2 separate regions of the Homo sapiens genome follow, and region 2 is linked to region 1. Evidence: fine-mapped expression QTL. A gene starts in region 1. The other region holds a variant in brackets. All regions are shown on one strand. Distances are from middle to middle.

What was found. PIP is the estimated chance that this variant, and not a neighbour inherited with it, causes the effect.
Region 2: its variant is fine-mapped to the expression of PALM in adrenal gland (GTEx, PIP above 0.99).

The regions. Positions count from the first base shown.
Region 1 is chr19:706,464-711,823 of GRCh38, forward strand. It overlaps PALM (paralemmin), which reads left to right and starts at 2,472. Exons shown (of 9, transcript NM_002579.3): 1 at 2,472-2,688. The coding sequence starts at 2,684. RefSeq lists an enhancer at 1,469-2,029 and a silencer at 1,482-1,718.
Region 2 is chr19:681,070-686,429 of GRCh38, forward strand. FSTL3 (follistatin like 3) reads left to right here. Exons shown (of 5, transcript NM_005860.3): 4 at 264-491; 5 at 581-2,316. The coding sequence ends at 639. PRSS57 (serine protease 57) reads right to left here. Exons shown (of 5, transcript NM_001308209.2): 5 at 4,477-4,853. The coding sequence ends at 4,647. Among named protein-coding and RNA genes, the nearest start is that of FSTL3, 7.4 kb to the left of the region's middle. RefSeq lists enhancers at 1-413, 414-962 and a silencer at 1-43. The variant C/T (reference allele first, on the strand shown) is at 2,647.

The sequences.
Region 1 (5,360 bases):
CTGTGCCCGGCCCAATTTTTAATTTTTTGTAGAAATGGAAGTCTCACTAGGTAGCCCAGGGTCTTCACCTCCTGGATTCAAGTGATCCTCCTGCTTCAGTCTCCTGAAGTGTTGGGATTACATGTAACAGTCACTTCATTCACCCTGAATCATTTATGTAGGGGACAAAAATCACCGTCTCTCCAAGGACAGAACTTCTTTTTTGTTTTGTTTTGTTTTGTTTTGTTGAGATGGAGTCTTGTTCTGTCACCCAGGCTGGAGTGCAGTGGCGCGATCTCTGCTCACTGCAACTTCTGCCTCCCGGGTTCCAGCCATTCTCCTGCCTCAGCCTCCCCAGTAGCTGGGATTACAGGCGCGCACCACCATGCCCAGCTAAGTTTTGTATTTTTAGTAGAGAAGGAGTTTCACTGGCCGAGCGTGGTGGCTCACACCTGTAATCCCAGCTACTAGGGAGGCTGAGGCAGGAGAATTGCTTGAACCTGGTAGACGGAGGTTGCAGTGAGCCGAGATCGCGCCATTGCACTCCAGCCTGGGCAACAAGAGCGAAACTCCGTCCACCCCAGCCAAAAAAAGAAGTGGTTTTGCCATGTTGGCCAGGCTGGTCTCTAACTTTTGACCTCATGATCCACCAGCCTCAGCCTCCCAAAGTGCTGGGATTACAGGCGTGAGCCACCGCGCCCGGCCTGGTCTCAAACTTTTGACCTCGTGATCCACCAGCCTCAGCCTCCCAAAGTGCTGGGATTATAGGCGTGAGCCACGGCGCCTGGCCGCAAAAATGGAACTTCTGCATCACAGGTGACTAACGGTGCCAGGCACACAGTAGGTGTTCAATAAATCACTTTGGACTAAAAGAACACAGAGGCCAAGGGGAAGTGAAGAAACGACTCACAGGTCAGTTTTATTGGGTGCCTAGTGCAGGGGTCAGTACACTACGGCCCTCGGATCAGCTCTGGCCCTCTGCCTGTTTTTGTAAATAAAGTTTTATTGGGTGCCTAGTGCAGGGGTCAGTACACTACGGCCCTGGGATAAGCTCTGGCCCACTGCCTGTTTTTGTAAATAAAGTTTTATGGGCACAGAGCCATGCCCATGGTTTTACATATTGTCTCTGGCTACTTTCACTCTGCGATGGCAGAGCAGAGTCATTGCCGCAGAGACTGTGGCCTGCAATGCTGAAAATATTTACTCTCTGGCCCTTTACAGAAAAAGTTTGCCAAACCCTGAGCTAGTGTGTGCTGGGCCCTGTGCCAAGCCCTTTGTGTGTGCTCACTCAGTTAACCCTCCCACAGCCTTAAGGGTGGGGGCAGGGGGGTGGGGGGGAATAAGGCTCCGAGAGGTTGAGAAACAGACCCAGGGTCACACAGCTTGGAGATGGGTGAGCTGGGAATCAGACAGACCCGGGACCCCTGATATTCTTTAGGATCTTAGCTTTGTTAACCTTTGCTAATTTATCTTATTGTCTTAAATGCTAAAATGAATACACATTCATTGTAAAAAGGGAGGAATAAAGAAAAGGTGTTGACGGCCTTCTTCAGCCTGGGGTACATCCTGCCGTATCTTTCTCCACAGCTCATCCGGGGCTACTTTCCTTTAAATCTACAGCCATTCAGCAAACATCGGCAGAGGAGAACCGTTTTATAAGAAAACTAAGAAGTTTGGAAGAATCTTTCCTTCCTGCCCACCCTGGACCCCCATGAGTAGGTGTGCTGGGGCTGGTCTGCAGTGTTCTCACGGGAAACCAGGAAGCTGGGCCCAAGGCCTACATGTTGGGGAAGACAGGTCCTGCCTGTCTCCTGCTGTGGCTCCCCAGTGCTCTGAGGACAAAGCCTGAGCTCTCCCTGATTCTCCACCGTCCCTCTCACTCACTCTGGTCGTCTGGTCGCTGGGCCTTTAGTGAGTGTGCCATGGGGGCCCTGGGGCCGATTAAATTCCAGCCCCGGGGACCAGGCTCAGCTCCCAGCCAGGGCACAGACAGATCAGCACCTGCGGTTGTCTCCACCCCAACCCCCGGCCTTTGCAGGCACAGCGCCCTCCACCAGATACTCCGGCAAAGGAGGCCTGGGGACCCTGCGAGCGGGGCCGGGGGTGCAGGGAGCTGTCAGCTCCTCGCAGCGGCCTCCCCAGGACCCCCCTATCCCCTCGCTCGCCCTGAAATGTGTGTCCCTCTCGGCGTCTGGGCTCTCGAGAAAGGCCTTTGCTTGTCTGACTTCGCGAGGGTCCCGGCTCTGGCCCAGGAGCTGGGGAGGGGCGGGACTTGGTGACAGCCGGGTCCCAGCACCGCGCCCAGACCTAGGCCCTTCTCAGGGGTGCCCCGGGGCGGGGCGCGCGGGGCGGGGGGCGGCGGCGGCGCAGCCGGCAGGAGGCGCAGCGCCCGCTCGCAGCGCGGGGAGGTGGGAGGGGAGCGGGGCGGGGAGCGGGGCGGGCGGGAGGGAGAGGGGAGCGCGCCGGAGACGCGCGCGCCCAGCCCACCCCCCGCGCCCGCCGCCGCCCGGACAATAAACAGCAGCTTTGCGCGGGGCGATGCCCGAGCCGGTGCCGCCGCCCCCGCGCCGCGCAGCCCCGGCCGCCAGGCCTTAGCCCGCCCCGGCCCCCGCCAGGCCGCGTCCCCCTCCCCTCCCCTCCCCCGCGCGCCACCCGCGCCCGCCCCCGCCCGGCACCGCGGACCCACCCGGACCTCGGCGGGGAGATGGAGTGAGTAGGCGCGCTCGGGCCGCGGGGCTGGGGGCCCGGAGCTCCGGGAGCCGGGGAGGGGGGAGGCCCCCTCTCTCGCGCCCCATTGGGGGCGTCGCTGCCCCCGCGAGGAGCAGGAGGCGGCGCGGGGCTGCTGGGGCCGCAGCGCAGCCGGGAAGAGACTCGGGCTGGGCCGCGCCTGCCGGGAGGCCTCCCCGCTCCCGGACCCCGGCTGCCCACCCACCGGCGCGTGGGGACCCGGGCAGCGGCGGCTCGGGCCAGTCCAGGACGCGGGGAGGGGGAGGCTCGCGTCTCCGCCCGCGCCCCGCCCGCGTCTCCAGGGCGAGCCTCGGCTCTCGGCCACCTGTGGGTGGCCCCGGGGAGATGGAGCGACCCCTCCCCAGATTGCACCGGTCCGGCCTCGCGCTCACGCACCCTTCCCCCGCCCCAGTCTGAGCGCACGGCTCCTGGCGCCCTGGACGCGCGCGCGGGCCGGTGCCCCCCACCCCCGCCCTTCCCAAGGGCCTCCAGGGGTGTCCTGAGCCCCCCGCCACTGCGCAGGTCCCGAGTTACCGCTGGAGGGAGAGGGGCTGCCCTCGGCTTCCCGGGTCTCTGGGGTGTGTGAGAAGGGAGAGGAACCGGCGTTTTCCAGCGGGGCGCCTGGGTGGGATACCCTCTCGGGGAAGTGTCTCGGAGCTGGGGCTCCACTGGTGTAGCTACAGGAGTGGGCTGGCCCTGGGCTGGGATCCCTGGACCCCCGCATGGCTGCGCCTGTGTGTGTGGGGGGGGGGTGGCCAGTGGAGGCACCGAGCGAGGGCGCGTGGTCATTTCGGACACCGGTCCCCTCCTCCCGGTGCTCGGGTGCCCCTCTGCCCCTCACTCCCACAGGTGGGCACTGCACGGGCAGGGGTCAGGAGGCTCCTCCTGGGGTCACCCACCTGCCCACTTCAGGACAGGGGAGCCAGCTGCCCTGCTGAGGCCCGGGTCCCCACCCCAGCCCGAGGACCGAAGACCGGATCTGGAGGCCGCCTGTGGCCCCCTGCCCTTCCCACTGGGCGTGTTTTCTAAGCCGCCAACTTTCCCCGGGGATTCACCCGTGACCCGCCACGCCCGCGGCTGGGTGGGGGCCGCTGCCTCCCTCCCTCCCTGGGAAAGCGAGACACCCAGTGTCCTCTGCTTTTGAAAACCCAGACAAAGGCCTGACCCCTCTCCCCGTCACCCCGCCCCGGGAGCTCAGCCAGGGGCTCAGGGGAGCCAGGGCCCAGACTTGCCTGCTCCACACCCCCACCCCCCAGCCTTGTTTATCTGCCCTGCTCGCCAGGCCCCGGAGGAGCCTCTGGGCCTCTGACAGCCAGGCCTGGGCAGGGTGTGGCTGTGGGGAGGGGGCTGCCTAGGAGGACGACGGAGATCTCCCTCCCAGAGGAGGGGTGTCAGCGAACACTCCGGGTCGGGCCCATTGTTTCCTTCCTGCCACCCCTTCCTTTCCCACGGGGGATACTGAGGCCCAGAGAGGAGCTGCTGCCCCCCCCCCACCCCCCCTCCATCACACAGCACCTGGGGCCGGGGGGCCTCGGTGCCTCCTGCTCTGCTCCACGGTTTCTCCGTCCTGGGTCAGAGGGTGGCCCACAGGTCCCCCATTGGGTCATCATTGCTTTTGGGGATGCAGACATGGGACAGGCACCCAGTGTTAACCGGCTGCTGTGAGCCGCCATTCGAGGACGACTCTCTCCCCGGTTCCCGGGCTGACAATGGGTGGGGACAGGCCCATCTGGTGCCGCCCGGCCTTGGACACCTGCCCCCTCGTTCTTCTCCCCGGCGGGCTTCAGGCACGAAGGCCCCGTCCGCTAGAACGTGATCGCTTGCCTCCTCCCGTTTCCACAGATTTTCCAGTCGAAGACACGGGAGCTGGCTGTGGTTTGTGGTGGTGCCCGTCTCGCTGGAAAGTTTCACAAATGAATTTAAGAATTTAAAGAATTTTAAATGTCATTCAAGAACAGGTTATTTTTTGTTAATGTGAGGATTTAAGGAGAACTAGCGGGTTGCTAACCACAGGGCCGATGCTGCCAAGGTGAGGAGAACGTCCAGGAAGGAGCTGGGGAGAATCTCTGCTTCGGAGAGAATCTCTGTGCTCTGGGAGGGTTTGTGTGGCCCCTGCGTGACACATGGTCTGGCTGGTAAAATAAAGATATTTTGGCCTGGAGCAGCCATTCTCCAGCACCCACAGCCCTGTCCTGGGTACAGGCAAGGCTCAAACCCCCGGGATAGGGAGGAGAACAGACTTGGGCCTGGACAGATGGTCAAGACCGGCCCAGACTCCTCCCTGCTCGCAGACCTGGAAATTTTCAATAGGAAAGTCTCCGTTGGGTGCTAACTGGGTCCTTAACGCTCCTTCACACTTGCTAATCCCCCTTTTTAATGAGAGGCAGAGCCTGTTAAAAGGCAACAGTACCTAGTGATAATTGAATTTAATAACAAGCTTTTACTTCCGTTGTATCTGTTTCTTCCTCCATGTTTCCGCTGTCTTGTTTGTGGCGGTGGCTTCTGGTTTGCCCAGTGTTGATCACAATATAATGTTTCTTTCTAAAACAAGGCGATTTGATTTACACTGGAGTGGTTTTGAAGGCAAGGAATAGACAGATACTGTCCAGGAGGTGGCGGAACATGGGAAGGTGGTTTCTTTCTTTTTTCCATGT
Region 2 (5,360 bases), 25 kb before region 1:
GGAGGGGCGGGGCTTTGGGTAGCATAAGGGGCAGGAGCTCACGAAAGAGGTGTGGCTCCTGGGTACAATGGGAAGGGCAGGGCTTGTGGGTGGAGCCTGAGGGGTGGAATGGAGAGGGGGGCTCACGGGGGGCGGGGGGGTGCTTGTGTCTCCTACCAGAGGGTTTTCGCATCTTGGGGGTTAAGGGTGGGTCTTGGGGCCAAGAGCCCTGCGGGGTTCTCAGCGAGATGTCCCCTGAACTTCCCCTGGCACCCGGCCTGCAGAGTCCTGTGAGCACGTGGTGTGCCCGCGGCCACAGTCGTGCGTCGTGGACCAGACGGGCAGCGCCCACTGCGTGGTGTGTCGAGCGGCGCCCTGCCCTGTGCCCTCCAGCCCCGGCCAGGAGCTTTGCGGCAACAACAACGTCACCTACATCTCCTCGTGCCACATGCGCCAGGCCACCTGCTTCCTGGGCCGCTCCATCGGCGTGCGCCACGCGGGCAGCTGCGCAGGTGCAGACGCAGGGCGGGGGCACAGGCCTGTCCTGGGGGCCGGAGAACCCCCTGCCCTGCGCCCTCAATGCTCTTATCGACCCTTGCAGGCACCCCTGAGGAGCCGCCAGGTGGTGAGTCTGCAGAAGAGGAAGAGAACTTCGTGTGAGCCTGCAGGACAGGCCTGGGCCTGGTGCCCGAGGCCCCCCATCATCCCCTGTTATTTATTGCCACAGCAGAGTCTAATTTATATGCCACGGACACTCCTTAGAGCCCGGATTCGGACCACTTGGGGATCCCAGAACCTCCCTGACGATATCCTGGAAGGACTGAGGAAGGGAGGCCTGGGGGCCGGCTGGTGGGTGGGATAGACCTGCGTTCCGGACACTGAGCGCCTGATTTAGGGCCCTTCTCTAGGATGCCCCAGCCCCTACCCTAAGACCTATTGCCGGGGAGGATTCCACACTTCCGCTCCTTTGGGGATAAACCTATTAATTATTGCTACTATCAAGAGGGCTGGGCATTCTCTGCTGGTAATTCCTGAAGAGGCATGACTGCTTTTCTCAGCCCCAAGCCTCTAGTCTGGGTGTGTACGGAGGGTCTAGCCTGGGTGTGTACGGAGGGTCTAGCCTGGGTGAGTACGGAGGGTCTAGCCTGGGTGAGTACGGAGGGTCTAGCCTGGGTGAGTACGGAGGGTCTAGCCTGGGTGTGTATGGAGGATCTAGCCTGGGTGAGTATGGAGGGTCTAGCCTGGGTGAGTATGGAGGGTCTAGCCTGGGTGTGTATGGAGGGTCTAGCCTGGGTGAGTATGGAGGGTCTAGCCTGGGTGTGTATGGAGGGTCTAGCCTGGGTGAGTATGGAGGGTCTAGCCTGGGTGTGTACGGAGGGTCTAGTCTGAGTGCGTGTGGGGACCTCAGAACACTGTGACCTTAGCCCAGCAAGCCAGGCCCTTCATGAAGGCCAAGAAGGCTGCCACCATTCCCTGCCAGCCCAAGAACTCCAGCTTCCCCACTGCCTCTGTGTGCCCCTTTGCGTCCTGTGAAGGCCATTGAGAAATGCCCAGTGTGCCCCCTGGGAAAGGGCACGGCCTGTGCTCCTGACACGGGCTGTGCTTGGCCACAGAACCACCCAGCGTCTCCCCTGCTGCTGTCCACGTCAGTTCATGAGGCAACGTCGCGTGGTCTCAGACGTGGAGCAGCCAGCGGCAGCTCAGAGCAGGGCACTGTGTCCGGCGGAGCCAAGTCCACTCTGGGGGAGCTCTGGCGGGGACCACGGGCCACTGCTCACCCACTGGCCCCGAGGGGGGTGTAGACGCCAAGACTCACGCATGTGTGACATCCGGAGTCCTGGAGCCGGGTGTCCCAGTGGCACCACTAGGTGCCTGCTGCCTCCACAGTGGGGTTCACACCCAGGGCTCCTTGGTCCCCCACAACCTGCCCCGGCCAGGCCTGCAGACCCAGACTCCAGCCAGACCTGCCTCACCCACCAATGCAGCCGGGGCTGGCGACACCAGCCAGGTGCTGGTCTTGGGCCAGTTCTCCCACGACGGCTCACCCTCCCCTCCATCTGCGTTGATGCTCAGAATCGCCTACCTGTGCCTGCGTGTAAACCACAGCCTCAGACCAGCTATGGGGAGAGGACAACACGGAGGATATCCAGCTTCCCCGGTCTGGGGTGAGGAATGTGGGGAGCTTGGGCATCCTCCTCCAGCCTCCTCCAGCCCCCAGGCAGTGCCTTACCTGTGGTGCCCAGAAAAGTGCCCCTAGGTTGGTGGGTCTACAGGAGCCTCAGCCAGGCAGCCCACCCCACCCTGGGGCCCTGCCTCACCAAGGAAATAAAGACTCAAGCCATTTTGGGGTGTCCAGGCCTCAGTTTGTCTCCTCTCTCAAGGCTTCAGGCCGCCCCCACGGCTGTGGGATGGGCAGCCTGGGGCCTGGGGTGCCGCATGGGTGCTCTGGAGGCACGGGAAGAGAGACCCAGCATTAGTCCTTGGGCAGCCTCTGGCCGCCTCTGGGCCTCAGTGCCTCTCCAGGCAGTGGACAAGCCCGGGAGGGGCTGAGGCAGAGCGGGAGGGGAGGGAGAGAAAGGAGGTCTTTTGGGAGGGCACACAGGATAGACAAGATGGCTTAGGGCAGCCCTAAGACACCAGCTGGCTTGGGACCCAGAAATGGAGGCC[C/T]GGTCTTGAATGACTTGGGTGTAACGATAGCAGTAATAAAAATAACAGGATTAGGGCCCGGGTGGGGTAGCTCACCCCTATAATCTCGGCGCTTTGGGAGGCCAAGGCGGGCGGGTCACTTGAGGCCAGGAGTTCCAGACCAGCCTGGGCAACATAGTGAGACCCTCATCTCTACAAAAAAAAAAAAAAAAAAAAAAAAGACCCAGGCATGGTGGCATGCTCCTGTGGTCCCAGCTACTCAGGAGGCGGAGGTGGGAAGATGGCTTGAGCCCAGGATGTCAAGGCTGCAGTGAGCTGTGTTGGCACCACTGCACTCCAGCCTGGGTGACAGAGTGAGACTGTTTCTAAAATAATAATAATAGCATAATTGGCCGGGCGTGGTGGTTCATGCCTGTAATCCCAGCACTTTGGGAGGCCGAGGCAGGTGAATCATGAGGTCAGGAGTTCGAGACCGACCTGGCCAACATGGTGAAACTCCAATCTCGGTGAGCCGAGATCGTGCCACTAAACTCCAGCCTGGGGGACAGAGCAAGACCCCATCTCAAAAAAAAAAAAAAAAAAATTAGCCAGGTGTGGTGTCATGCACCTGTAGTCCCAGCTACTTGGGAGGGTGAGGCAGGAGAATCGCTTGAACCTGGGAGGCAGAGGTTGCAGTGAGCCGAGATCGCACCACTGGACTCCAGCCTGGGTGACGGAGTGAGACTCTGTCTCAAAATAATAATAATAATAATAATAATAACAACAACAACAACAAAAAGGCCCAGCGCGGTGGCTCACCCGCGCCTGTAATCCCAGCACTTTAGGAGGCCAAGGCTAGCGGATCACGAGGTCAAGAGATCGAGACCATCCTGGCCAACATGGTGAAACCCCATCTCTACTAAAAATACAAAAAATTAGCCGGGTGTGGTGGTACATGCCTGTAGTCCCAGCTAGTTGGGAGGCTGAGGCAGGAGAATGGCTTGAACCCAGGGGCAGAGGTTGCAATGAGCCGAGATTGCGCCACTGCACTCCAGCCTGGTGACAGAGTGAGACGTCATCTTAAAAAAATAATAGGCCGGGCGCGGTGGCTCACGCCTGTAATCCCAGCACTCTGGGAGGCCGAGGTGGGTGGATCACGAGATCAGGAGATCGAGACCATCCTGGCTGACACGGTGAAACCCCGTTTCTACTAAAAATACAAAGAATTAGCCGGGTGTGGTGGCGGGCGCCTGTAGTCCCAGCTACTTGGGAGGCTGAAGCGGGAGAATGGTGTGAACCCGGGAGGCGGAACTTGCAGTGAGCCGAGATCGCACCACTGCACTCCAGCCTGGGGGACAGAGCGAGACTCCATCCAAAATAAAAATAAGTAAAGATAAAAAAATAAAATAATAATAAAGAAAATAAAATCTAAAAATAAAAAAATAATAACACAATAACAAACTGTGACAATAACATCACCTGGGACTTGCTGTGCACCCCGCGCTATTCTCTGGTTTTCAGAGGATGACCACGAGGCTTGATGTGTGGCCAGACCCTCTTGGGACTCCTCGGCGCGGCCGGTGCAAGCCCGCCCTGGTGTCCAGCAGCCCCCACGCCCTGCACAGGGAGCTCAGGGCTTCCTGGCCTCCGTTTCCCAGCGGACTCGCCTGCGGTGTGGTTAGGCGGCTGGAGGGAGGTGGAGGAACGGCATTCCAGGTGGGAGGCTGCAGGAGTGTGGGTTGCAGGGGCGCAGGGGTAGACCCAGAGGGGTTCACGGTGGGGGGCATGGGAAGGTGGAAAGGGGCTGCGGACCGAGCCGCGACACGAATGCCGGTGGACCCTGCAGCTGACCGCCCACGGGTGAGGCTGGAAGTCAGTTAACATTTTACTGGGTTTGCTTCTGCCCTTTGCATGTGGAATGGGTGTGCCCCACCGCTGCCCGTCCCACCCCAACCCTGAACATCAGGCTTCCCGTGGGGCCCAGCCACGGAACATTCCAGGCCTGGAGCGGCCATCTCATTTGCATGCCGCAAGGTTGTGGCTCAGGCGGCTTCTCCTGGGGGCCTGGTGGTCCCAGGCAGGGGGCCGGGCTGGGGACTGCTCCGCCGAACCACGTCCCAGATCCAGGCCACAAAGGCGGACACCTGCGTGTACACGTCGGGGGTCTTGGGGTCGCCGCACCAGAGGCCCGAGAAGGAAACGAGGCCGTGAGCCCGGTTCCTGCACACCAGGGGCCCTCCGGAGTCGGCCTGGAGTGAAAGGAGAGGTGAGGTCAGGGCCTCTGGGAGCTGCTGCAGGCACATCTCACCACGGCCCTCCCTGCCTCAGAACCCTCTGTGGCTCCCTACTGCTCTCCAAGGAAAAAGTAAATTCATTTCTCCCCTCCAGGCCCTGAGGACCCAGCCCCCACCCACTTCTCTGCCCTCCCCGCTGAGCCTCCTCAGTGCTCCACGGCCTTTGTATAGCCTGGAGACCTGTTCCTGCCCTGCGCTGGATGCTGCCTGTGTGAACATTCGAGTCTGCAGTGTTTTGGGCAGTGCACAACCTACACAGCTGTACGCGGCAGCCCTCTACTAACAGGTCTCTCTGCCTTGCGTGTGTTTCCTCAGATCTTCTAAGGATTCCTTCAAGTCTCAGCTCAAAGGTGCTCTCCTTGGAGAGGGCTCCCCGTATACTCACCCTAAAATCCCTCATCCTACCCTCCTGCCATCTAGAATCCGCTCTGATACCATCAACTGGATACTAATAGTGTAGCA